Linked DNA regions of Homo sapiens. The protein of the gene in region 4 purifies or fractionates together with the protein of the main gene of each other region. This does not show direct contact. Each region holds a gene or a part of one and is shown on either strand. Other genes may lie near its edges.

Region 1 (3,500 bases), on a different chromosome or scaffold from region 4:
CGATGAACTTTTTGCAGTGGAGTCCATGTTAGATTGGAAGAGCCCCAGCGTCTGTCCATGTCCAGGCCTGGAATGCGGGTCCTCTGAGTGCCCTGGCTCCCCAGGGCCTGGCCCTGCCTTTAGACCCCTCACTCTCAAACACCTTCTCAGTACCTTGCTCCCAACTGTGGTCCGGAAATGCTTGCTGTTTGGCTTGATGACTTGCTTTGCAGATTTAACTGTAATCATTGAACCAAAAGGAGAAGGAGGAGTTGGATTTTCTTGAAAAAAGTTGGCACAGAGATGAAACTGGAAGGAACAGAGAGGATCTCAATGTCCAAAAGCAACTGCCCACAGTACTCACTCATACAAGCCACGTAAATGGTGACAACAACTCAGCTAAACTAGTGGGCGGTGAACAACCTCACCAACATCTACAGCCAAATCTCAATTCCACAAGACGATCGTCTTTCATAGGGATGGCCCGTGACTTCTTTCCCGAGAAGGGGAACAGAGAAGAAAAGTGTGTAAATGTCTGTATGTGGGTATCACTCTAAGTGTCAGAAAGTGGAAACATCTACTATTCTCACCTCCGTGCCTGGCTCACACTGTGTCTCCACCTGCAATCTCCTCCCTCCTACTCCACATTCTCATCCCTGCAGATCCAAACCCTACCCAGGAATCTCTTAAAATGTTTTCCAGCCCCACCCACTTCGCAATGAATGAATTAATCCCAACTTCTCTGAACCGTCTTCATCTTGTATTTGTACCTCATTTAAAGCACTTACTACCTTCTGCTTTGTATCAGTTATTTCTTTAAATGTCTTATCTTCTCTCAGAGTGAATTTCATATTTTGTTTTGTTTTGTTTTGTTTTGAGACAGGGTCTTGCTCTGCTGCCCAGAAGAAGAGTGCAGTGGCGCAATCATGGCTCACTGCAGCCTCTATCTCCCAGGGCCAAGCAGTCTTCCCCACCTCAGCCTCCCAAGTAGCTGGGACTACAGGCATGTCACCATTCCCTGCTAATGTTTTTTTATATTTTTAGAAGAGACAGGGTCTTGCTTTTTTGGCCAGGCTGGTCTCAAACTTCTGGCCTCAAGCAATCCACCCGCCTCTGCCTCCCAAAATGCGGGGATTACAGGCGTGAGCCACCACGTCTGGCTGGAATTGTGATTCTTCAATGGTTCTATTAGCTGTCCTTCCTGTCATCTGCATGTTTGATTTCTGATTTTGCATATAGTAGAGATTTACAGTAGTTATCTTTTTGAATCTGTGAGCTACAACTTACCACTGTCCAGAGAGTTCACACACACACACACACACACTCTCTCTCTCTCTCTCCTTACTCTTTCCTTATATACATCTAGATCCATGTCAATTATATAATAACTTTAGTTACCCCTAGGACTTTACAGACCTTGCTTGCTCTCAGGATTTCAACCAGCATGTCATAGACGGTGTCTCTGTTTTTCTCCAGGAAACCTTCACATTTATACTCTACCTATACAGAGAAAGCAATTAATTATTCCCAAAGAGGCCAAAGAATATAGCCTCTAAGCACAAGTTTCATCTCTTTTTTAAGAAAGATTAATAAAAAAGGCTACAGAGGCAATCTTACAAAAAGACGTCTGGCTTCTGTGCATCATGGCAGCAGCCCCATTATGTATAAGCTGGGAATGTGTCTTCTCTCCCACCACCTGGGTTTCTCACCTGCCTGCTGATCACTCTGCACTCACCTGTTGGCTCCCTCTGGCCACAGGGGTCCAGTTGCTCCCTGCGGTATGTGCAGTTCCTACAAGAACACCTGACTTAGGTCTCCCTTTGCCTTTGAAGCCACCAGGAGGAGGAAAAAGCTTAGTGGTGTTCATTGGGTTCAAACAGACATCGTTTCCTAAATCAACATTAATGTGGTAGAAAGGATAGAAAAACCGACCAGCTGACCACCAAGCCTTCAAGAGCCACCAAGCCCTCAGAATCAGGTTTAGAGTGGGTCAACCTTTGCACTGCTTGAATCTAGCTTAGAAAAACTCTCCATGCTGCCCTTTCTGATGAAGAAGGCTTCTCGAATGCCTCAAACCATGGCATATCCAGGGTGGCTGCTTCAACATTCAACCTCCCCCTAGTTTATGCCTCTGGATTGCATATCTTAATATGTGATAATTTATTTTTCATAAATTAAAAACGTATATTAAAATTAATTTTAAAAATTGACAATGAGGAAACAGGGGAGAGTGCTGGAATCCGTAAGCAGAGGGTTCCCTGGGCATGGCCTCTGCTTTGTCCCCCAGGTAAGGAAGTATCCTTGCCGGTAGGTAGGTTAAGATCCAGGAACACCGGCTGTTTGCAAACACTTCTTTGTGAATGAAGTACCTGGATTGTTGTACAAATTCTTCCAGAATGGTGGTGTGAGCCACTAGGACAGATAGACAAAGGTGGCAAATACAGAGCTTTCCTGGTCTGGGCGAGCATCTGTGGGGACAGTGTCACATGCAGCTGGTGCCTCTGTTGGGGACTCTGGGACCAAAGGAAGATGTGCTGAGCTGCTACATCTAAGCTCAGCTGACTTGCATTCAATACGACCTGATTTCCCTGGCCAATGAGATTGAAAACCTAATCTAACCCCATAGTGCATGTGGGTTCTTCCCACCAATCAATCCATAGTCCAGCCCAAACGCTGCCTAGTTCTTTTAAGGGAGACTTCTTGGAAGTGGCAGGTGAGAGAATTACATGTCCAGAAACTACATCCTATAAAGAGAGACCCTTGAAAGAAATCCCATATGTGCTTTTTATGGAGTCTGGTCTTTCCCCCTCCCTTTTCCTATGGGACCAGAACCCTGAAATTATGACAATAGCTAGGAAATATAATTTGACATATGATCATTTCATTTCATAGGCATCTTTTCAGGAGCCCATCTGAAAAAGTCTAAGCACTAAAAACTTATCTTTTTTTTTTCTTTTTCTTTTTCTTTTTTTTTTTTGAGACAGGGTCTCACTCTGTCAGCCAGGCTGGAGTGCAGTGGCGTGATCTTGGCTCAATGCAACCTCCGCCTCCCAGGTTCCAGCAATTTTCCTGCCTCAGCCACCTGAGTAGCTGGGATTACAGGTGCGTGCCACCACGCCTGGCTTATTTTTGTATTTTTTAGTAAAGATGGGGTTTCGCCATGTTGGCCAGGCTGGTCTCAAACTCCTGGTCTCAAGCGATCCACCCGCCTCAGCCTCCCAAAGTGCTGGGATTACAGGTGTGAGCCACTGCACCCGGCCAATCCTATATTTTAATATTTTACAGTACTCTGCTAGCACACAAAGGTGATCACAGCTTTCCAGGTTGCTGTCCCCTCCCTCCACCATCAGTCACTCGGGAATGACCAGCTCTGACTCACAGCACCGGCCTCTGCGATAAACATAGACAAGCACAAGCCATTCCTGTGAGCCCTGGCACTGGGCTAGGCCACCAAGGCAACACCCAACCAGGACATGGGAGGAGGTAGGAGCTCCCTTAAGGAAGGAAAACAAATAAGAATG
Region 2 (3,500 bases), on a different chromosome or scaffold from region 4:
GTGGTGGCACACACCTGTAGTCCCAGATACTCAGGAGGCTGAGGCCGCAGAATCACTCGAACCCAGGAGGCAGAGGTTGCAGTGAGCTGAGATCGTTCCACTGCACTCTAGACTGGTGACACAGTGAGACTCTGTCATAAAAAAAAAAAAAAAAAAAAAAAAAAAAAAAACACACACACCTATCAACAAAGGAGGGCAGGGCAAGAGCCTGCTCAATGATTACAGGTTACAGGCCATTGGAATATGCCACATCCACAAGTCACAAGTACAAACTTCAAAATTCTGATGATCGCCAACATGGTGAAGCAGGATCCACTGGGCTTATAGGCCCATCTGAAAACGGGGAGCAGAGGATCAACGGAATTGGAACTAGGGATGAGAGAAGAAAAAAACCACATGCAAGACAGAGAATGAGCCTCAGAAGGAAAGTGACAGCATGACACACAACCTCCATGCTTCTTTTCAGCCTTTCCTGGGACCATAGAGGGGCCAAAGCCCTTGAGATTCTCAACATCCACTAAGCTAAGCCACCATGAGTTATGGTTAACTTGGGCTCCTAGAATCTGATCCTGAGACAAGGATTCCTGCTCAAGAGACTTGTAAGGCAGTGTTTTCCGGAAAAGACTGGTAGGGGAGTAGAGAAGGTGGACAAGAGAGGGAAGGAAGTCAAGCTAACATGTGATACTAAGGAAAGTCCCAAGCATGGTAACTTTAGTTCAACTGTACAAAGAAACTGAAAACAGTATGGGTCATACTTTAGAGCTGTTCCATTCTCAAGGTGACAAGATAGGAAACTAATGTCATTACAGTGCCATTGGTTAAGGACTGTTCCCTTTTGCAGAGTGTCAATTCCCAGGCTCCCTATGCACACAGGCAAAACAGCTTCAGGAGCTTTGACAAAGAGATGGGTGCTGGCTATTGGGAGTGAGCTAACACCAAGGCAGTATGCAGGGAAGGGAGTAAGGGGGAAACAATAGGAGCACTAACAGCATCTGCTGACACTTTTCAAGTCCTCATGTCTTTAACACTGTCACCACTTTTTGGAAAAAAGAACATCACTCAGAGCCACCAGCAAAAGAAGGAATCATCAGCCCCTCCAGCAGGGGTGACTGGGTACAGAGGAAACAGGTGGCTCTTGCTGCCTTCAGACTGACACTTGGGAGAAACTTACATTACCTGAGGTATAGGTAAGGGACTGTTAAAGGACACCTGCCCAAAAGCACAGAAGATCTATTTTTCAAATGATTGGTCCCAAATCGCGCCCTTAGTAAAGGCTCCTGGGTGCAAAGCTGCCATACATATGGTGTGTCTGCCAGTAAAGTAACCTCCCAGCAGCACTCAAAAACCCACTGCTCAGACACTACCTATCAATTAGAAGCCAAGCAGGAAAAAAGGTTATTTGAAGGCACTGGTTTCAAGGCACCAGTTTCAATTTGATGATTTCTCATTCACTCTGCTGGCTAGAATCAAAGTAGCATATTGAAAATCCAGGTATTTGAAATAGCAGTATTTAAATTTTTTGTTCCAAGTAACTCTTCTATAGATAAGAGTTGTATTATTCAGCCTGAGAAGGAGAGGTTACATTTTATGCTTTAAAATCAGACTACTATCTGCAATCATCATGATGAAATGGTATTCACCATGCTTGCACATGTGTGGGCTTCTTTCTGGATCTATGCAAAGCAAAGCCCACATTGTCTTTTCCAATGGGTTGGAAGCCAAGCACTCACACTGACCACATGCATGCCACTGTGACAACAGAGACCATCATCAGCTCCACCTTTGGAGCTGATGTGAGAGTGAATGAGACTGACTCACTTTGACATCACCCTGAAAGTGTCTGGCACTGACTGGTGCTCTTTCTCCATCCAGAAAAACCTCACTACAAAGAAAACAATTTCTCAAAGGTGAGGTGTTGGGTCTTCTGAGAACAGGAGTGTCTCTGTTCAAAGAGAAGTGCCCTTTGGCCCCCGACCTACCAAAAAAAAATCACATAACATATAAACTGCCACTTGAAGGGAACAGATCAAGAAGAGCAAGAACACATTTAATTGGATGGAGGGAAAAAGAAACTATTTTCTTAGATAACTAGAAATACACTAATTTCTTACTGAACAGTATTTAATACAAGCTAATATATATTTAAATGTTTCATATTCCAATAATAACATCTTCTAACTATCACAAAAGCAACAGGTATAATCAAAGGGCTTTAAATTTTCCATTCCCAAAAATGTATAAATGCTGTTAGCATAATGGGTAATTATTTCCATCATACATAATACATTGATGTGTGTGTCTGGCTCCAGTGTTCATCACATTAGGAAAGCCCACTAGCAAGTTAAAAATAAAAGGGAACATTGGCTATTTTGATAATACACTAAAATGAATAATCTCTAAGAAACAAAGTGAATCTGAGTAGCAGGCACGACTTCCCTGTGTAACTTATGATTCACATGCATACTGAGAAGCCAGCTTGGCAAGTGGGGAGACCATGGTTAGGCAACTACACAACTGCTTCTCATAGTAAAGCACAAGTGTGTTAATTGCCAGGAAGAATAACAACTGCTCAAAACATAAATCTAGAAGATACTGTCTTGGGTCCCAGAAAATCTCCTTAATTTCATAATCAAGACCCTAAATGATTAAGAACTGGAAACCCATTAACAGAGCAAGGTGCAGCCCAGCAGCCCTTAGGGAAGAACTCTAATATTTGTTTGGGATTAATTATGCCAACCCCTCACACCAATGAAGCTACTTTTTAAGTGTCTTATATCCAAGACCTTTCTCTGGTGACACCAGTTTTGTACATCTCCATAACCTGAGAAAAAGTACACTGAAACCCAAGTTCAGACTCCCACTACTTCATCATTCCTAAGAATTAACATGCAATGTATTCATTTCTAACTAAAAATCAAATTGAGTGTTTTCTCCTACAAGTATTGTCTTTAAAAGCAATCCGATATTAATTCTTGTTCTTCAAAACTAGGGCTCCGAAGATTAAGGGTTTATTCAATTGTCCATTAGCCTCATATGAGCACTATTTCAAGGTCATGGAAAATGCATATCATGGAAAAAAATTCACATGGATTTCAGAGTTTTCTGCACCAAAACAAACCCATAGTTTTATACTTGTTATAACAAGTATGAATGGGATCTAGAACAGGGTCTAGTTTGAGGCACTAAGAAAGTTAAGTCATCAGTTTGAAAAGAAGCCCCTATCAGGGCAACATGAATTCTACTAAAATTGAAGCAAGACCAAACATCAAATTTATGACGAAGTGTGGAGAGAAGAATTGTGAAATCATGACTTTATGAAAAGTTTATGGGGACAATCAGTTTTTAAGTGGATAATTCATTTGAAGAAGGGACGAAGCGATGTCAAAGATGAAGCCTGTACCAGCAGACCATCCACACCCATTTGAGAGAAAAAAAAAAAAAATGTAGCTTGTTTGTGCCCTAATTGAAGAGGGCTGACAATGGTAGAAACAATAGCCAAC
Region 3 (2,870 bases), on a different chromosome or scaffold from region 4:
AGCTCCAGACTGTCACACCTTGACAGCGGGGAGGGTAGGGCTTCCTGTCCCTCTGGAGTCTCTCCAGCCATAGGAGCACGCTGGCAGCCATGGGCTTCCAGCACCTGCAGGGCCACGGCGGGGCCCTCGGAGCTCCTCCCAGGGGGTGAGTTCTGCTGAGTTCCTCCTGCGCCTGGCCAGGAACGGGGTAGGGAATTCCCTGTGCTTGGGACTTCCAGGGTCCAGGGCAAGGCAGGGAACAGGAACTTGGGGGTTGGGTTGAATGCTGGGGAGCTGAGGGCTGAGTGCAGGGGGGCTGCTGGCTGAGTGCTGGGGGCTGCTGGCTGAGTGTTGAGGGCTGCTAGCTGGGGGGCTGATGGCCAAGCTTCGTGATTTCCTGGTCAGCCTGCTCAGGCTGCGGAGGGGAGTGGGAGGAAGAGAGCCAAACCCACGCCTGGCTGCTCTGGGGGTCTTGGGCAGCCTCTAGCCCAGGAGAGAAGACAAGGCAGTCACTCAAGGCGCTGAAAACAACGGCCTCCTTTACTGTTAAAATGCAGCCACAGGTGCTTAGCCGTGGGCATCTCAACCACCAGCCTCTGTGGGGGGCAGGTGGGCGTCCCTGTGGGCCTCTGGGCCCACGTCCAGCCTCTGTCCTCTGCCTTCCGTTCTTCGACAGTGTTCCCGGCATCCCTGGTCACTTGGTACTTGGCGTGGGCCTCCTGTGCTGCTCCAGCAGCTCCTCCAGGTGGTCGGCCCGCTTCACCGCAGCCTGCAGCACACCCACAGGGTCAGGCCTGCTCCCAGCCCCGAGGTCCAGCAGGGCTGGCCACAGGGACTCACCTCATGTTGTGTCCGGAGGCTGCTCACGGCCTCCTCCTTCCTCGCGAGGGCTGTCTTCACCCTGTGGGTAGTACATGGTAGGCTTCAGTGTGGCCCCCGCCCCATGTCCCCAGAGTGGCCTGCAGTGCACAGGGTGCACGGGGCAGCCGCCTGGTCAGCCTGGTCCCAGCCCTGCTGACCACGACTCCTGTGGCTGGCCCAGACAGCTGTCCAGGCAACCCACCTGCTGTGAGTCAGGACCCAACACAGGCCACTGGAGTATGACCCTGGCCACACCTGGGGAGGCCTGGTACCCAGATGGGGTGGGACACCTCGCCCACACCCACCTCTCAGCCTGTGGCAGCAGATGGCACAGGAAGGATGCAGGACCCCCGTGGAGGGAGCTCGCTGGGAACCTTACAGTGCCCCAGCTCTTTCAGCGCCTGTCCACCCAGCCCAGGGCCCCGGGAGCTGACTCCCTGGAGAACTCGCCAGGCCCAGACCCGACCCACTCGGGTGCCCCAACAGGGATGGCCGACACCCTAGACTAAGCACCAGGGAGGAAAACAGATCTAGGTCTCCTGGGCCCCAAACATGGAACCCACACCAGCCTCTGTCTACAGGGCCCTGTCTCTGCATCTCCTGGCCTTCCTCAGCCACAGCCTCCTGGGGCTTGGAGCTGCAGAGGTCCTGCCCGCTCCCCTGCCCCGCCTCCGTCTCCAGCCCTGCAGCCCCCGCCGCCCACCTCCGGTGCACCTCCTCCAGCTCCAGCTGCTGGCGGGCCTGCAGCGTGGCCAGCTCGGCCTTGGCCTGCCGCGTCTCCTCCTCAGAGGCTGCCAGCCGGTCCTCGAACTCCTGGCGGATCACCTGGGCCAGGTTGCTGCGCTCGCTAGAAAGCTGCTCGTTCACCTGGGTGGGCACAGAAGGCAGTGAGCCGGCTGCCAGCGACTGGCTGCGTGCATGCAGGAGGGGCCTGTGGGTGCCCACTGCCCACCTGACACCCGCCCACTCACCGCCTGCGCATCCTCCAGCGCCCGCTCCTTCTGCCGCACAAGGCCCTGCAGACGCAGATTCTCGCCCTCGGCCTCCCCAAGCTGGCCCTTCAGCTCCGAGCACCGCTCCTGAAGCTTCCGCTCCGACTGCTCCAGCTCGGAGAGCTCGGCCTCGTACTTGTCCCGTAAGCGCTTGATGCTGGAGGTGGGGGGAGGGCAGGGTCACTCCAGCCCAGTCACACACGGGTCCTTGCGCCTCAGCTCGTGGGCCTCCCCAGCTGGTGACCCAGCCATGGCGGGTCCTTACCGGCTCTCGGCAGCCTTCTCACTCTCCTCCTTGGCCAGCGCCATGTCGGCCTCCAGCCGGTGAATGACCAGCTCAATCTCCTTGTCCCGGCCTTTCCGGATTTCTTCCCTCAGCTCCTGTTCCCGGTTCAGCAGCCACGCCTCCTGGGGGGACATGCGCTGCCTGGGGGTTGCCACCCGGAGCCGGCCCGCGGGGCCAGGGCCAGCCTCAGGGGGTCCTGGGGGGCTCCAGGCTCTGAGCCACAGGGGAGCAAGGGGCCTTCCCCCTCTCCAGACCCCTGTCCAGGGGTGCGCTACGTCCTGTTGTCAGGACCCAGTGTGGGCATAGGCGTACCAGAGATCGTCATGATGCACAGCCCACGGTCCCCTCCCTCAGAGACCCACAGCCCATGACAACCTGAGGCCACCTTCTGCTACCAGATGGGATGGGAAAGTTGGACTTGCGTGTTGCTGAGGGCGGGGCCTGGGCCCCCAAGCCCAGGCATTCAGAGCCTAAGCTGGCAGCCTCCTGGAAGCCTCTGAAAACTCCCAGAGTTTCATCTGTCCAGCCCTGGGCCCCACAGGGCTACGTCGGGAGCATGCTACTGGGCCCAGAGGCATCCACTGCCAAAGCCTGCCTGGCTGCTCGGTGACATCCCAGCCCACCAGGGTGTGAAACCAGGTGACGGGCACGGTCAGCCTGGACTGTAGCCTCGCGGCGGGCATGGGTGGTGAGAATGTGTGTGGGACTGTCACCGTGGCAGAGTCCACCCCCCACAGAAGGCCCCAGAGGCT
Region 4 (3,500 bases):
CAGCGGCTTAGGGACTGGGGGCCTGCTGAGAGCCCAGCCTGAAGATACCACAGATAGGCCAACCTGCATCCTCCCATTGTAGAGACAGGCAGACCAGGCTGAGATTTCAGTGAAAGTCAGTGGGACAGAGGTGGGAGCTTGGCTGGCGAGACATGGGGGTCAGAACGCTGGAAAAATGGCACCGGGAGGACTCATGGATCTGAGTCTTTCTCCACAGCTTAAGATTTTGCAAAGAACAGCAGGGGGTCTTTGTGGTCCCCACAGACTTGTGCTGTTCCCTTTTTCCTTAGGTCCCTAGGTCCAGGCCCAAAGAGGCAAGGCCCAATGATGAGCCGATTAAACTAAGGCCCAAGCCAGCCCAAGATGAGGATGGCCTGTGGGTGCCAGGGTCCTGCAGCCACACAGGGCATGGCAGTTAGAGAGCAAAGTGAGGTCCCCACGGCTGTGCCCAGTGACGGTACCGAGTGGGGTTGGCTGCGAGGTGCAACAGCAGTGGCCTCACCACAGACAGTCGGGTAAGGTAATAAGAACTGCTTGACTTTCCAAGCTTATTAGCATGCTGTGTTATTGTCTGAATAAGGAAAAATGACTATGAAAAGTCTGTGAGTCCATGTGGCTTCGTCCAAAATGCCTGTTGGGTGAAGAGTCTCCTTTGCCCTGGCTCCACATTTCCCAATCTAACCTGCACTGGGGCAGTGCCCTGGCCTCTTCTTGCCCTGTCCCTCTGCCCTCTCTTATTGGCAGATTGGAGAAAGATCTGGTGGGTGGGGTGCAGGTCCAGAAGGAGAGCAGCTGCCGCTCTCCCTGCCTGGGGGCTGCCGGAATGTCTCTGTTTGTCTATTAGGATGGGTCATCCCCAGGGGAAGCAACAGGTGTAGGGACACCTCCTCTCCCTTCCCTCCCCTTCTCGAACTCCCGGCCTCAATAGATCCTTCTGCCTTGGTCTCCCCAAAGTGCTGGGATTACAGGTGTAGCCACGGTGCCTGGCCGTCCCTCCCCTTCTCTACCATCAATGACACAAACAACATGACCAGAGGACATGGGGTGGATGGGAGTGGCCCTGGGTCTGCAGATGGCTTCCTGTCATCCCAAACTGGAATGAGTTCCTTGTCCTCCAGGAGTCAGCCCTCTGGGGAGCCCTCTTGGGTCCTCCCCATCATGGTGAGGCTCTTCTGGGAAGCCCAGCTGAGAACGCTGGGGCCCCTGGCTTTCTCCCCCAGGTGCCTGAGACCCTGGTGCCACAGCCCCAGAGGCCCTGGCATACTCACCATCCTCTGGCCCCGGCATGGCTGGCAGGTGTACTGGAAGCTGGCAAACTGGCAGTACATGCTGGGCCCACAGTCCTCGTCGATGATGCACTCCTGGGGAAGGGCACAGGGAGCAGATGTGTCAATGGAGAGCAGAGCAGCAGGCCCACAGTGCCCAGGAAGGGCCAGGCCCGCTTCCATTCCCCATTCTTGACCCCACAGGCTCAGCAGGGTCAGGAAAGGCCTCCAGACTCTAGTCGCTCCTGATCCCTGCCTGGCTGCACTGCCCTTCAGCATCTCCATGCCTAGGAGGCTTGGCAGCCCAGAGCCTGGAGGATCCCACACCAAATTCACACAATCGCCATCTGTGCACAGTTCTCCCCCACCCACACCCAGGGCGGGAGCACAGGGACTCAGGGCTGGTCTTCCACACAGAACATATGGATTTAATAAAAAGTGCTAATGAGGTCCAGGCCCGCCCGACTGCACAGGAAAGGCTGGAAGACAGGCCCCAAGGGCTCTGCTGACTGTGAAGACTGGGAGGCAGCAGAGGGGGCATCGCTAGGGACCCTGCCAGAAAGCCACAGCCCTGCCCACAGAGAGCGCCCTCAGGGTCCTGGGTCTAGGGTCCCTGCAAGAGGGAAAGGCAGCTGCCAGCTTGGAAATGAATTAGAGGAGGGTGGCTGGACTCCAGCCCTCCCAGCCCAGGTGCTGTCTCCTCATGGCTGCCAGCTCTGCCTGGCTGGAGAAACAGGGAGAGAAGGAGTGAGGGGAATCTGTCCACCCCAAGGCCTGAGTCACAGAACAGGGAGCCATGGCCGAGGGCACTGTGACCTGCCATGGTCGCCGGTCACTGGCAGAAGCAGGGCTGCTTCAGCTCCTGGACCTGCTGTCAGGCTCAGGCCTACGAACCGGCAGCTTTACAGCAGGGGAAGGAGGGCAGGGGAGGAGGGAACATGATGACAGGAATGGCCATTGATCGCCCTTTTGAGGTATCAGGCTTGACGGCCCTGATCTTGTTCAGTGACTCCTCCCAGCAGGAGGCAGGTAGGGACTGCCTTCTCTATATTGCCAGCCGGGAAATGGAGGCAGAGAGGTCCCTCCAAGATAATGTGACTAGTTCAGGGTGGAGGGTCTCTTTCCACCACCAGCCCTTGAGCCAAGGGGGTTCAGGGCTCCACATGTAGCAGCCAGTGGTGAGAAGGACCCTCCTGAGGCCTGGTATTCTGGGGCCCAGCAGACCTTCTGGAAGGGTCTTGAGGAAGGGAAGGACCGGCTCTCCCCTCTGACCCAGAGCATCCTCCCCATCCTGAATGCAGGTGTGGAGCCCCACCTGGAAGAGCCTGGCCGGGCAGGCCTGGACCTCCGGCAGCTGCCTCCAGTCCCCTTCCAGGGGCTCTGCTGCTCTGATCAACACTGCAAGTGCTGGCGGCCCAGCAACCAGGGTGCTCCCTTGCCAAGCATTGATGCTTTTGTTTCAGTTACTTTCCCAGCACCCCTTAAATGTCAGGCATGATACCATCGCTGTTTTTACGGATAAGAAAACCGAGGCTCCGAGTAGGGTGAACGGCCGCCCAAGTGAAGGGACTGAGTCTGAGCCAGAGCCCCAGCGGCCAGAGAAGTCCCAACAGGGCTGGGAACAAATCACAGACGCGCTTTGTCTCAGCCCAGCACACGCTCTTGTGCACAGACACAACTCAGGCTGCTCAGCCGGAAGCCTCCCGACGTTCTTTCCAAAGCAGAATGGCAAGAAAATGGAGTGGGAGGGACGACATTTGGGAGAAAGGAAGGGCCAACAGGCACAGAATCCCTTCTCTGAACCAGCCATATTTTGAGGGACTGGGGACACAAAGGTGAATGTGAGGAGGCCTCTGCCCTTAAGAAATTCGTAATTCAATTGGAAAAAGAGAGAGAGAAAGAGCAACCCAGTGGCAAAGGAGACAAAGGGTATGAACGGACAACTTAGAATAACAGAAATTTGCCTCTTCAAATAGAAAGGCGTTCAACCTCACCAATGAAATCAATCAAGAAATGCAACTTAAAAGAGCATAACACCATTTTTTTCACTTAGAATGGAAGAAATTAGAAAGGTTGAATGTCTCCATGGTGGGTGGAATAACAGCACCCCCAAAGATGTTCACATCCTATTCCCCGGAACCTGTGGGTATGTTATATTACATAGGAAGGGGAAATTAGAGGCAGAGGGAATGCAGGTTGCTAATCAGCTGACCTGAAGGTAGGGAGCGCACTCTG
Region 5 (3,500 bases), on a different chromosome or scaffold from region 4:
AGAAATAATTCCATTGGTTGAAGACCAATCAGCCAACATTTGAGTACTCAGTTAATTCATTTTAAGATGTATTAAACATGGGGAAGGGCAAATTCTGTAGCATCACAGAAAACGCAAAAGGATTAAAGGTAGGTTTGCTTCACAGCCACTCACTTGCACCTTCCCCTTCCAAAGCCTTGCATTTTATTCTGCATTCATGATTTACATTCTTTTTCTTAAAGGTGGTTGCCCCCAAGCATTATGAGGTTCAAAGCACCAGAAAACCTGGATCTACCTCTGAACAGGCTATCTGCCTTTGAGGATTCCATAGGTTGGTGAGGAATATGAATATGATAAATTCTCTGTTATGAATAAATGTCCATGTATCCTGAGAGCACATGAGAATGTGACATTGACCTGTTTTGGGGGATTGGGAAAGATTTCTCACATCTGGTCTTGAAGGATGAGTAAGAGTATGGCAGGCAGGGAATGAGGGCAGAGATGAGGAAAGGAGGACATTCCAGGGGGTGAAAACAGCAAGAGCCAGTGGCTCTCAGCTAGGGATAATATTGCATGCATGTGAGCACAAAGACACCCACCCACACACAACCCCCCCAGGGACTTGTGGCAATGTCTAGAGACATTTTTGGTTGTCATAAATGAAAGAGGAGTGGAGTTGTTGACATCTAGTGAGTAGAGGCCAGGGATGCTTCTAAACATCCTACGACACACAGGACAGCCCCTACAACAAAGTCTAAAATGTCTAAAATGTCAATAGTGACAAGGCTGAAAATCCCAGGTCTAAGCAAAGGTACAAAAGACATACTGTGTTAGATTAAAAAAGAGAAGTTGCATGGAGCTTTGGCATGCACAGTGCTTCAGATGATTGCTTTTATGGAAGACAAAACCCAGTAAGAAAAGAGAGGGTGAAAAATTAAATTTCTGAGAAGCCAAGATATCAGACTGAATAGATGCTTTATTCTCAAAACAGGAACCAATAACAAATAAAGTTAAGAAACTGGACCTCTGGAAGTCTAACGTATATTTCATTGTCCTATAAAATGGAAAGCATTTCTGTCAAGGACACCGTCCGTGGCTCAAGTCCACTCCTGAGCAGTAGCCTGCATTCTTCCTTTCACGCACATGGCTGAGAGTGAGGAGTGTGCGGAGTAAGGAGCACGCCGAGGAGCAGATGCAAGCAGCTTGCCCTGGCAGGACTCTCAGAGGGAGGGTGCAAAGCTGATGTTAATGCTGGAAGAACTCACGTATAGGAATGGCCCATGTAAGGAGAAAAGGAACCAATGAGCTCCACATCCAAAAAGGAAGTGGCTACAGAGAAAGCAGAACATGGTAGGACAGGGATGTTGTGGTTAGGGCTTCAAGTGGTCATCAGGGTTGCTGGCAGGAACTGCTCCTGACCATGGAAGCAGGCAGGACTCATACAGAGGTCTTACGCCTGAGCAGAGACCCTTGGAAATTGGAATGAGGAACTTATCACCACCACCTCCATCTCCACCAAAAAGTCAAAAGAAATATCCCCCAACAAGAGACTTCTGGGAGGGAAAGAAGGAGCCCTCACAATACAAGCAGGTTTTGTTATAAAGCAAGGAATATAAATTGAAGCTCCTTCTCAGATATTCCAGGGTTTTGTTAGAACACAAGCAGGTTTTATTTATTTATTTATTTTGAGACGGAGTCTTGCTCAGTCACCCAGGCTGGAGGGCAATGGCGCAATCTCGGCTCACTGCCAGCTCCACCTCCCAGGTTCACGCCATTCTCCTGCCTCAGCCTCCCAAGTAGCTGGGACCACAGGCACCCACCACCACGCCTGGCTAATTTTTTTTGTATTTTTAGTAGAGACAGAGTTTCACGGTGTTAGCCAGGATGGTCTCGATCTCCTGACCTCATGATCCGCCCGCCTCAGCCTCCCAAAGTGCTGGGATTACAGGCGTGAGCCACCGCGCCCGGCCGCAGGTTTTGTTATAAAGCAAGAAATATAAGTTGAAGCTCCTTCTCAGATATCCTAACTCGCAGTAATCCACATCACTCTTTTACTCTTGCCCCATCCAGACACACATCTAGGTCAATTTTTTTTTTTTTTTTTGAGACGGAGTCTCGCTCTGTCACCCAGGCCGGACTGCGGACTGCAGTGGCGCAATCTCGGCTCACTGCAAGCTCCGCTTCCCGGGTTCACGCCATTCTCCTGCCTCAGCCTCCCGAGTAGCTGGGACTACAGGCGCCCGCCACCGCGCCCGGCTAATTTTTTGTATTTTTAGTAGAGACAGGGTTTCACCTTGTTAGCCAGGATGGTCTGGATCTCCTGACCTCATGATCCACCTGCCTCGGCCTCCCAAAGTGCTGGGATTACAGGCGTGAGCCACCGCGCCCGGCCTAGGTCAATTTTTAAAAGTAAAAATGGTAGGAGAAAGTTGCATCAATTGTGGCAGTTGTCTAAAAATCAAGCTTTAGCTCCAAGAGGGAAAAAGAAGGCCAGATTAATAGCAAAACAAGAAGATAATTCTAAAAGGACAATGCCACATAAGCTTTTAAAAAAAAAAGTAACAAGCATTTTTCCCTCTCTACAAAAAAATGTTGTCATGAAGGAATGTACTCTGTACCCAGCATTATGCTAGGTGCTGCTGTTGAGAAAACACAGACCCATGAAGCACCTGCAGCCTTGAGTGCTTGACTATTACATGACTTAAAGGAAGGAAGCAGGCCTTGCAGAAGAGCCAGGTGGGAAGGGAGGACAGGACATTCCAGACTGGGGAGTAAGAGCAGGAACTACAGCTTGGGAGGGCAGGAGTCATGAGGTACAAGCACACATGGGAATTTCACTCACACATCCATATATACCAATGGACCAAACACGCTCAATTTCAGCTATATACAACCAGAAATATGTGCCCAACCACCAATATTCCAGGAGACAAAAACACTTCAACATCACAGAACAGCACCTGGATTACGCAGTGGTGGGTTTCTGGTCACCTTCTGCAAAGTGAAAGGAAAGAGAGGACTGTTTTCTGTCTGGGTCAGAATTTATAGTTTCAGAGGAGGGTAAGGGTGCTACCCTTTGCTGGCACTGTGTTTATGGCTACAGGGAACCAACTATTTTAATGTATAAGTAAGTCATGAACAATCACTGATCTGTACAATGAGAACCACAGCCAGTTCTCAGAGTCATCAAGGACACACAGATGAGATACATACAAATACATATACATCTGTACACCCAGGATTTTGAATGATGTGGAGATTGGGTATAAAGGTAGACCTAAAAACCTGGGCCTTAGCCAATGGCCATATGGAGAGCTGGTGATTCCTCCCACCTCTCCACAACACCAACCCCTTCCCTTCCAAACAACTTAACTTATTCACTGTCACCCAGAGTCAGCTTTCATGCCGCCAACCCCTGCTCATGCTGCTTAATCCACCTGGAATGCTCTCCAGCCACGAGTCCACCTTTACAAATCCTACCCATCCTTTGGAACTCAGCTCAACTCCTCTCTTCCTCTATA
Region 6 (3,500 bases), on a different chromosome or scaffold from region 4:
ACCACCCCACTCCCAATCTTTCATCAACTTTATTGAGGTATAATATACTTGAAAAGTCCCTCATTTTAAGTGTACAGTTTGATGAGTTTTGACACATATATTCTGTCATGTAACCACCGCCACAAACAAGATGCAGAACATTTCCATCACCCCAAAAGTTCCCTTGTGCTTTGTCTCTTATCTTCCCCAACATCTTCAGGGAGTTTACTGGAGTTATGCTTGCTCATTAGGGCAGAAGGAAGTTTTTTCTTTTTGGTTTTTCCGAAATGAATGCTATGGTTCCACCTTAGCCCAACCAATAGAGATACTTATTACAAAGGCCTGGCATTGGAGATCATGGCTGTGGAGTTTCATTTTCAGTGGGAGGCGGAAGTGGATATAAAAGGAGTTTAGATGATTTTTGTTTAATCTTTCCTTCACACACTGACCACTTTGCCTTTATTAATGATGTCTGCCTTTGATGCCTTCTGAAATGCCCTTTGGTTAATTTTGCCCTTTAACGGTTCCTCTTCCCCATCTGTCTTGGTTGTAACATCAGTCTGAGTTTGTGCTGATACAACCTAAACTTTGCAGAAACTTATCCCTGGCTCTTCATGCCTCAGGCATTCTCCATTTCTCTTCTAAGCCCTCCTCACTTGGAATTCTTTTTAACTAGCAGGCATTAGCGTTAAATATCTCCTTGTACAGCAAAGGCTTTTTGCCAATTGTAGAACTTAGGGATGATGTAATTATTTTTTGATTTCAAAATAATGGTTCTAAACTTGATTGAAATCAAGGGAGAAGTGCATTGTACATAATGCACTAAGTGTTCATGAGGACCATGTATCTACCTCCTGTGGCCTAATGTACTACTGTGGCCAAAAATGTGGGCAAGATGCTGGGCTAGAGGGAGACTGGATGCACAAAAAAGATAGGTTTTGTCCATCTTTTGTCACATATACAAAAACATATAGTCCTGGCCAGGAATCCTGCATGTGTGGTTGGGGTTTCTACTTCTTGACAAATGTACATGAAACTAGAGAAATTTCAGAATAGGAGAAGTAAAATGATCAGGGCAGTGAAGAGGCTAGACAGATTAAAGGTGTCGAACTCTCTAGTTTAGAAAGATGAAGGTGAGCTGGGAATACAGTAGAGGTTTTTTTTTTTTTTTTTTGAGACAGAGTCTCGCTCTGTCACCCAGGCTGGAGTGCAGTGGCGTGATCTCAGCTCACTGCAACCTCTGCCTCCTGTGTTCAATCGATTCTTCTGCCTCAGCCTCCCGAGTAGCTGGGACTACAGGCATGTGCCACCACCCCTGGCTAATTTTTGTATTTTTAGTAGCGATGGGGTTTCACAGTACTGGCCAGGCGGGTCTCGAACTCCTGACCATGTGATACGCCTGCCTCGGCCTCCCAAAGTGCTGAGATTACTGGCGTGAACCACTGTGCCCAGCCCTATAGTAGACTCTTTGACATCCAGAATAGTGGAAGTTTGTAACATCAAATCTCAGTTTAGTAGGGATATGTTTTAGATCTTGAAACAAATCAATATATGCCATTTTAAATGAATTTCTACTTTAAACATTTACATTTTACATTTCTGAAACTCATCACTTCAAGTTATGGTATTAGCTGAGGTACAGGATGTAAATAGAGAGGGTCTGGGTAATTTATGGATGAGAGGTTTGGCACATTGACTTACCAAACCTCTCTTTAACAGTGTTAGTCAGTTTACCAGCCACAGCTGTTTTAGTTGGAAGAAACAGAAACCCAAACTCAAAGCCAAAGAGGAGTTTATTTGCTCATGTGACTTAAAAATCTAGGCATGGCTGGAATCAAGGCTCAGACATGGTCATTGGGGCTCTCTTCACTGACTCTCACATGCTGTCTGACATTGGTTTCATCCTGAGGGCAGCTTTTTTTAGGGGTGAAAAGATGGTCAGTGGCACCTGCAGATCACATGATCTTACAGCACTGGGCCTGGAGGAAGAGAGCCTGATAGAGGAATTCTGGTCATGTGCCTTCTCCTTTCATTGGGCCTCTAGGCAGTAGGTGAGGAGCACCATGAGTGGTCAAGTCTGTGCTCACCCCAGAGACCAGGGGGAGGACAGGGCACTGTGATTGATAGTCCTACTCCAACCTCATGGGATGGCTGTGAGCTGTTCGCCATTGGAAGGAAAAGTGCTAGGTAGTCAAAATAAACAACTACCCTCAGTCCATGTATGCTATGAATAGGTCACTGAAAATGATAGTCATGGAATTCTACCCCTCCTTTTCTGATCTTTGAGCAAGAAGAATGGGAAATTTTGCTTGACCGGGGACATTAGGTATCTTTCCCCTAGAGAATCATTTTGGATTGAAAAATAGAAGCCAGGCCAGGTGCGGTGGCTCATGCCTGTAATCCTCAGCACTTTGGGAGGCCAAGGCGGGCGGATCATGAGGTCAGGAGCTTGAGACCAGCTTGGCTAACACGGTGAAACCCTGTCTCTACTAAAAATACAAAAATTAGCCGGGCGTGGTGGCGTGTGCCTGTAATCCCAGCTACTCAGGAGGCCGAGGCAGGAGAATCGCTTGAACCCGGGAAGCAGAGGTTCCAGTGAGTTGAGATCGTGCCGGTGCACTCCAGCCTGGGCGACAAAGCAAGACTCTGTCTCAAAAAAAAAAGCCATGGAGCGTCTGTGCAAGCAAATGTTACTAATAGCATGTTAGAAATTGAAATTTTGAAAATTTATTCAGTCTTCAATTTTGATTTTTCATGTATTATTATTATTATTATTATTATTATTTTTTTTAGACAAGGTCTCGTTCTGTTGCCCACACTAGAGTGCAGTAGCGCAAGCATAGCTCACTGCAGCCTCGAACTCCTGGGCTCAAGCAGCCCTCCCAGCTCAGCCTCCTGAGTAACCGGGACTGTAAGCGCATGCCACCATGCCTGGCTAATTTTTTAATTTTTGTAGAGACAGAGTCTCACTTTGTTTCTCAGACTAGTCTCAAACTTTTGGCTTCAAGCAATCTCCCACTTAATTATCCCAAAAGTGCTGAGATTATAGGCGGGAGCTACCATGCCCGGCCATTATTCAGTCTTAATTTGGGGGCTATGAACCCTATGTCACCTTTCTTACTGATTTCTTTCTACCGTATTTCCTCAGCATTTTATTTCCCCTATTTTCTTCACATCCTTGCTTGCATACGTTATTCTCTTCCCCTATTTTCATACATAGATAAGTTGCACGATTTCTTATTGCACAACAGTAAGAATTGTGCACAATTTCTTTTTGCCTGTCCGTCATTCCTTGTTCATGTCTAGTGGTAGTCTGTCTTCTGTTCTCTTCCTTCCACCTGTTCATCTGCTTTATCCCCCTACTATTTAATTTTATCTACCCACCCCTTATGCCCTGTTATGATTTGTTATAACGAAGTATATATACATCCCACACCTATAATGGAATAAAATAAGTTACTAAAGGGTGAATCTTTTTTTCATAACTTAGATTGAGGAGGGAACTTCATTTTTGTTTTTGC
Region 7 (3,932 bases), on a different chromosome or scaffold from region 4:
ATGAGGTCAGCAGTTCGGACCAGCCTTGACCAATACGTTGGAAACCCCGTCTCTACTAAAAATACAAAAAGTAACCAGGGGTAGTATTGCACGCCTATAATCCCACCTACTAGGGAGGCTGAGGCAGGAGAATTGCTTGAACCCAGGGGGTGGAGGTTGCAGTGAGCAGAGATCTCGCCACTGCACTCCAGCCTGGGCAACAGAACGAGACTCCGTCTCAAAAAAAAAAAAAAAAAAAGCGCGATAGGCGATTACTGGTCAGTGGTCAATATAGGTCAAGGGACGAGACAGGAGAGAGCTTTCTAAGGTTGTGGGCCTTTTTATTTTTTATTTTTTTGAGGCGTAGTCTCGCTGTGTCGCCCAGGCTGGAGTGCAATGGTGCGATCTAGGCTCACTGCAATCTCCGCCTCCTGGGTTCAACCAATTCTCCTGCCTCAGCCTCCCCAGTAGCTGGGATTACAGGCGCCCGCCCTCACGCCTGGCTAATTTTTTGTATTTTTAGTAGAGACGGGGTTTCACCATGTTCGCCTGGCTAGTCTTTTTTTTTTTTAGACGGAGTCTCACTCTGTCACCCAGGCTAGAGTGCAGTGGCGCTATCTCAGCTCACTGCAACCTCTGCCTCCTGGATTCAAGTGATTCTCCTACTTCAGCCTCTCGAGTAGCTGGGACTACAGGTGCCCGCCACCCCGCCCGGCTAATTTCTGTATTTTTAGTAGAGACGGGGTTTCACCATATTGGCCAGGCTGGTCTCGAACTCCTGACTTTGTGATCCGCCCGCCTCAGCCTCCCAAAGGGCTGGGATTATAGGCGTGAGCCACGGCGCCCGGCATCCAGGCTAGTCTTGAACTCCTGACCTCAAGTGATCCGTCCGCCTGGGCCTCCCAAAGTGCTGGGATTACAGGCGTGAGCCACCGCGCCCGGCCAGGTTGTGGGTTTTAATGGGACCATCTCACTGCCTACCGTTTCCTTTTTCCGTCCGAACAGAAGGGGCCTGAGCAGTGAACTGACAGTGGCAACGCCGGGTGAGGCGGGATGGAGGAGTTTACGAGCCTGGGTGACGCCCTGTTCCGCGTCCTGGCCCCGCCCCTCCCGGCAGAGCCCCTTGGCGCGTGACACAGGCCCCGCCCTTGCTGTACGCCATCAGCCGGCGCCGCGCCGCCGGGTGTTACTTTGCCCCGCCGGCGGGGCGGTCAGCCTCCTGTCACCGCCTGTTCCGGCTATGGTCCCGTCCGGTGTTCTGTAAGTTGGCAACCTAGGCTCCTGACGCGACCCTGGTCCTGATGGCGGCGGCGACGGCCGCGGCAGCCCTGGCGGCGGCCGATCCCCCTCCCGCAATGCCGCAGGCGGCAGGGGCCGGAGGGCCCACAACCCGCAGAGACTTCTACTGGCTGCGCTCCTTTCTGGCCGGAGGTGGGTCCATGCCACGAAGAGCCAGCCGCGCTCTGAGTGGCGGGGGCAGGACTGTGGGCAAGTGGGATGCAAGCGGCCTCTATGACATTCCTGGACTCTGGCTGCTTCAATGTTCTGTTAGATGTCTGCCCTGACCTGCTGTAACCTCTTTCTAGTAATCACTTGACTAATGACAGCTAGGTTATGGGGAGTGGGACCTTTGGCACTCCGGCAGAGGCTGGGGAGGTGGAAGGTCTGAATCAGGCACCCATTCTTCAGGGCTGGATAACAGGGAAAAGAGGAGGATCCCTTACAGAGACCCTGGGGTTTTAGTGAGACATGCTGGGCACTCCTTTCTTTTATAAAAACCGTGAGTGACCCAGTGTAGACTTGGATTTTGCTGTTTGCTTAAAGGAAAACAAATATTGGAGATCAGCTTTTTAATGACTACTGGAAAATTGTGCAAACTGTCTACAGCCAAAACTGGTTCCAGTGATTCTAGTAAACTGTGACACAGTACTTGACAAGCCCTATTATTGATGTGACTTTGGGATCAAAAAGTTCATATTGTCTCTTAGGAATTTCCTGGGCCTTCAAGCTCCACCCTTCCTTAATTACTTCTCTGGGTTGTGTAGGGGTGGGTTGCCCCTCCACACCTGTGGGTGTTTCTCGTAAGGTGGAACGAGAGACTTAGGAAAGAAAAAGACACAGAGACAAAGTATAGAGACAGAAATAAGGGGACCCGGGGAACCAGCGTTCAGCATATGGAGGATCCCGCCAGCCTCTGAGTTCCCTTAGTATTTATTGATCATTTGTGGGTGTTTCTCGAAGAGGGGGATGTGTCAGGGTCACAAGACAATTGTGGGGAGAGGGTCAGCAGACAAACACGTGAACAAAGGTCTTTGCGTCATAGACAATGTAAAGGATTAAGTGCTGTGCTCTTAGATATGCATACACATAAACATCTCAATGCTTTACAAAGCAGTATTGCTGCCCGCAGGTCCCACCTCCAGCCCTAAGGCGGTTTTTCCCTATCTCAGTAGATGGAGCATACAATCGCGTTTTATACCGAGACATTCCATTGCCCAGGGACAGGCAGGAGACAGATGCCTTCCTCTTGTCTCAACTGCAAGAGGCATGCCTTCCTCTTATACTAATCCTCCTCAGCACAGACCCTTTACGGGTGTCGGGCTGGGGGACGTTCAGGTCTTTCCCTTCCCACGAGGCCGTATTTCAGACTATCACATGGGGAGAAACCTTGGACAATACCTGGCTTTCCTAGGCAGAGGTCCCTGCGGCCTTCCGCAGTTTTTGTGTCCCTGGGTACTTGAGATTAGGGAGTGGTGATGACTCTTAAGGAGCATGCTGCCTTCAAGCATCTGTTTAACAAAGCACATCTTGCACCGCCCTTAATCCATTCAACTCTGTGACACAGCACATGTTTCAGAGAGCACGGGGTTGGGGGTAAGGTTATAGATTAACAGAATCTCAAGGCAGAAGAATTTTTCTTAGTACAGAACAAAATGGAGTCTCCTATGTCTACTTCTTTCTACACAGACACAGTAACAATCTGATCTCTCTTGCTTTTCCCCACAGGTTGTCATTACTTAATTATTTAAGATTCAAAAATTTAAAAATTCCACATTGAAGTTGTGTGCAGTGGCTCACTACTGTAGTCCCAGTTACTAGGGAAGCTGAGGCAGGAAGACTGCTTGAGTCCAGGAGATCGAGGCTCCAGTAAGCCATGATCACACCACTACCCTCCAGCCTGAGCTACAGAGAGAGACCCTCTCCTAAAAGAAGAAAAAAACAAAAACAAACAATAAAAATTCGCTGGGCAGGGTGGCTCACGCCTGTAATCCCAGCACTTTGGGAGACTAAGGTGGGCAGATCACTTGAAGTCAGGAGTTTGAGACCAGCCTGGCCAACATGGTGAAACCCTGTCTCTACTAAAACTACAAAAATTTGTCAGGCGTGGTGGCACTCGCCTGTAATCCCAGCTACTCAGGAGGCTTAAGGCAGGAGAGTCGCCTAAATCACTGTGGAGGTTGCAGTGAGCCGAGATCCTGCCATTGCACTCCAGTCTGGGTGACAGAGACACTCCATCTCAAAAACAAAATAAAATAAAACAAAAAAAACCTCACATTATGAGGATTTGTAGAAAGATAATATCTGAAGACTGCAGCAGTATTAAGTTTTTTTTGTTGTTGTTGTTGTTTTGAGACAGAGTCTCACTCCCTCACCCAGGCAGGAGTGCAGTGGCGTGATCTTGGCTCACTGCAACCTCTGCTTCCTGGGTTCAAGTGATTCTGCTGACCCAGCTTCCCAAGTAGCTGGGATTACAGGGGAATGCCACCATGCCTGGCTAATTTTTTTTCTTTTTCTTTTTTGAGATGGAGTCTCACTCTGTCGGCCAGGCTGGAGTGCAGCGGCACGATCTCTGCTCACTGCAACCTCCGTATCCGGGTTCAAGTGATTTACCTGCTTCTGCCTCCCAAGTAGCTGGGATTACAGGCGTGCACCACCATGCCCAGTTAATTTTT

Evidence for each region.
Region 1: the proteins of DKK3 (region 4) and MYO5C purify together in Homo sapiens (affinity purification with mass spectrometry; 2 studies listed by BioGRID and IntAct, with this or other methods). This does not show direct contact.
Region 2: the proteins of DKK3 (region 4) and MYO5B purify together in Homo sapiens (affinity purification with mass spectrometry; 2 studies listed by BioGRID and IntAct, with this or other methods). This does not show direct contact.
Region 3: the proteins of DKK3 (region 4) and CEP131 purify together in Homo sapiens (affinity purification with mass spectrometry; 2 studies listed by BioGRID and IntAct, with this or other methods). This does not show direct contact.
Region 5: the proteins of DKK3 (region 4) and MYO1D purify together in Homo sapiens (affinity purification with mass spectrometry; 2 studies listed by BioGRID and IntAct, with this or other methods). This does not show direct contact.
Region 6: the proteins of DKK3 (region 4) and MYO5A purify together in Homo sapiens (co-immunoprecipitation; 3 studies listed by BioGRID and IntAct, with this or other methods). This does not show direct contact.
Region 7: the proteins of DKK3 (region 4) and SLC25A16 purify together in Homo sapiens (affinity purification with mass spectrometry; 2 studies listed by BioGRID and IntAct, with this or other methods). This does not show direct contact.

Annotation. Positions count from the first base shown.
Region 1 is NC_000015.10:52,247,305-52,250,804, forward strand, and holds part of MYO5C (unconventional myosin-Vc), read right to left. Parts: intron 1,480-3,500; coding exon 1,396-1,479; intron 289-1,395; coding exon 154-288; intron 1-153. UniProt on the Homo sapiens protein: May be involved in transferrin trafficking. Likely to power actin-based membrane trafficking in many physiologically crucial tissues.
Region 2 is NC_000018.10:50,188,648-50,192,147, forward strand, and holds part of MYO5B (unconventional myosin-Vb), read right to left. Parts: intron 1-3,500. UniProt on the Homo sapiens protein: May be involved in vesicular trafficking via its association with the CART complex. The CART complex is necessary for efficient transferrin receptor recycling but not for EGFR degradation.
Region 3 is NC_000017.11:81,189,096-81,191,965, forward strand, and holds the end of CEP131 (centrosomal protein of 131 kDa), read right to left. Parts: intron 2,256-2,870; coding exon of another isoform or gene 2,241-2,255; coding exon 2,098-2,240; intron 1,990-2,097; coding exon 1,812-1,989; intron 1,708-1,811; coding exon 1,544-1,707; intron 881-1,543; coding exon 820-880; coding exon of another isoform or gene 749-819; coding exon 674-748; 3' UTR 501-673; downstream 1-500. UniProt on the Homo sapiens protein: Component of centriolar satellites contributing to the building of a complex and dynamic network required to regulate cilia/flagellum formation.
Region 4 is NC_000011.10:11,967,127-11,970,626, forward strand, and holds part of DKK3 (dickkopf-related protein 3 isoform 1 precursor), read right to left. Parts: intron 1,362-3,500; coding exon 1,269-1,361; intron 1-1,268. UniProt on the Homo sapiens protein: Antagonizes canonical Wnt signaling by inhibiting LRP5/6 interaction with Wnt and by forming a ternary complex with the transmembrane protein KREMEN that promotes internalization of LRP5/6.
Region 5 is NC_000017.11:32,870,625-32,874,124, forward strand, and holds part of MYO1D (unconventional myosin-Id), read right to left. Parts: intron 1-3,500. UniProt on the Homo sapiens protein: Unconventional myosin that functions as actin-based motor protein with ATPase activity. Plays a role in endosomal protein trafficking, and especially in the transfer of cargo proteins from early to recycling endosomes.
Region 6 is NC_000015.10:52,518,881-52,522,380, reverse strand, and holds part of MYO5A (unconventional myosin-Va), read left to right. Parts: intron 1-3,500. UniProt on the Homo sapiens protein: Processive actin-based motor that can move in large steps approximating the 36-nm pseudo-repeat of the actin filament. Can hydrolyze ATP in the presence of actin, which is essential for its function as a motor protein. Involved in melanosome transport.
Region 7 is NC_000010.11:68,524,724-68,528,655, reverse strand, and holds the start of SLC25A16 (solute carrier family 25 member 16), read left to right. Parts: upstream 1-1,132; 5' UTR 1,133-1,280; coding exon 1,281-1,410; intron 1,411-3,932. UniProt on the Homo sapiens protein: May be involved in the transport of coenzyme A in the mitochondrial matrix. Very little is known about the physiological function of this carrier.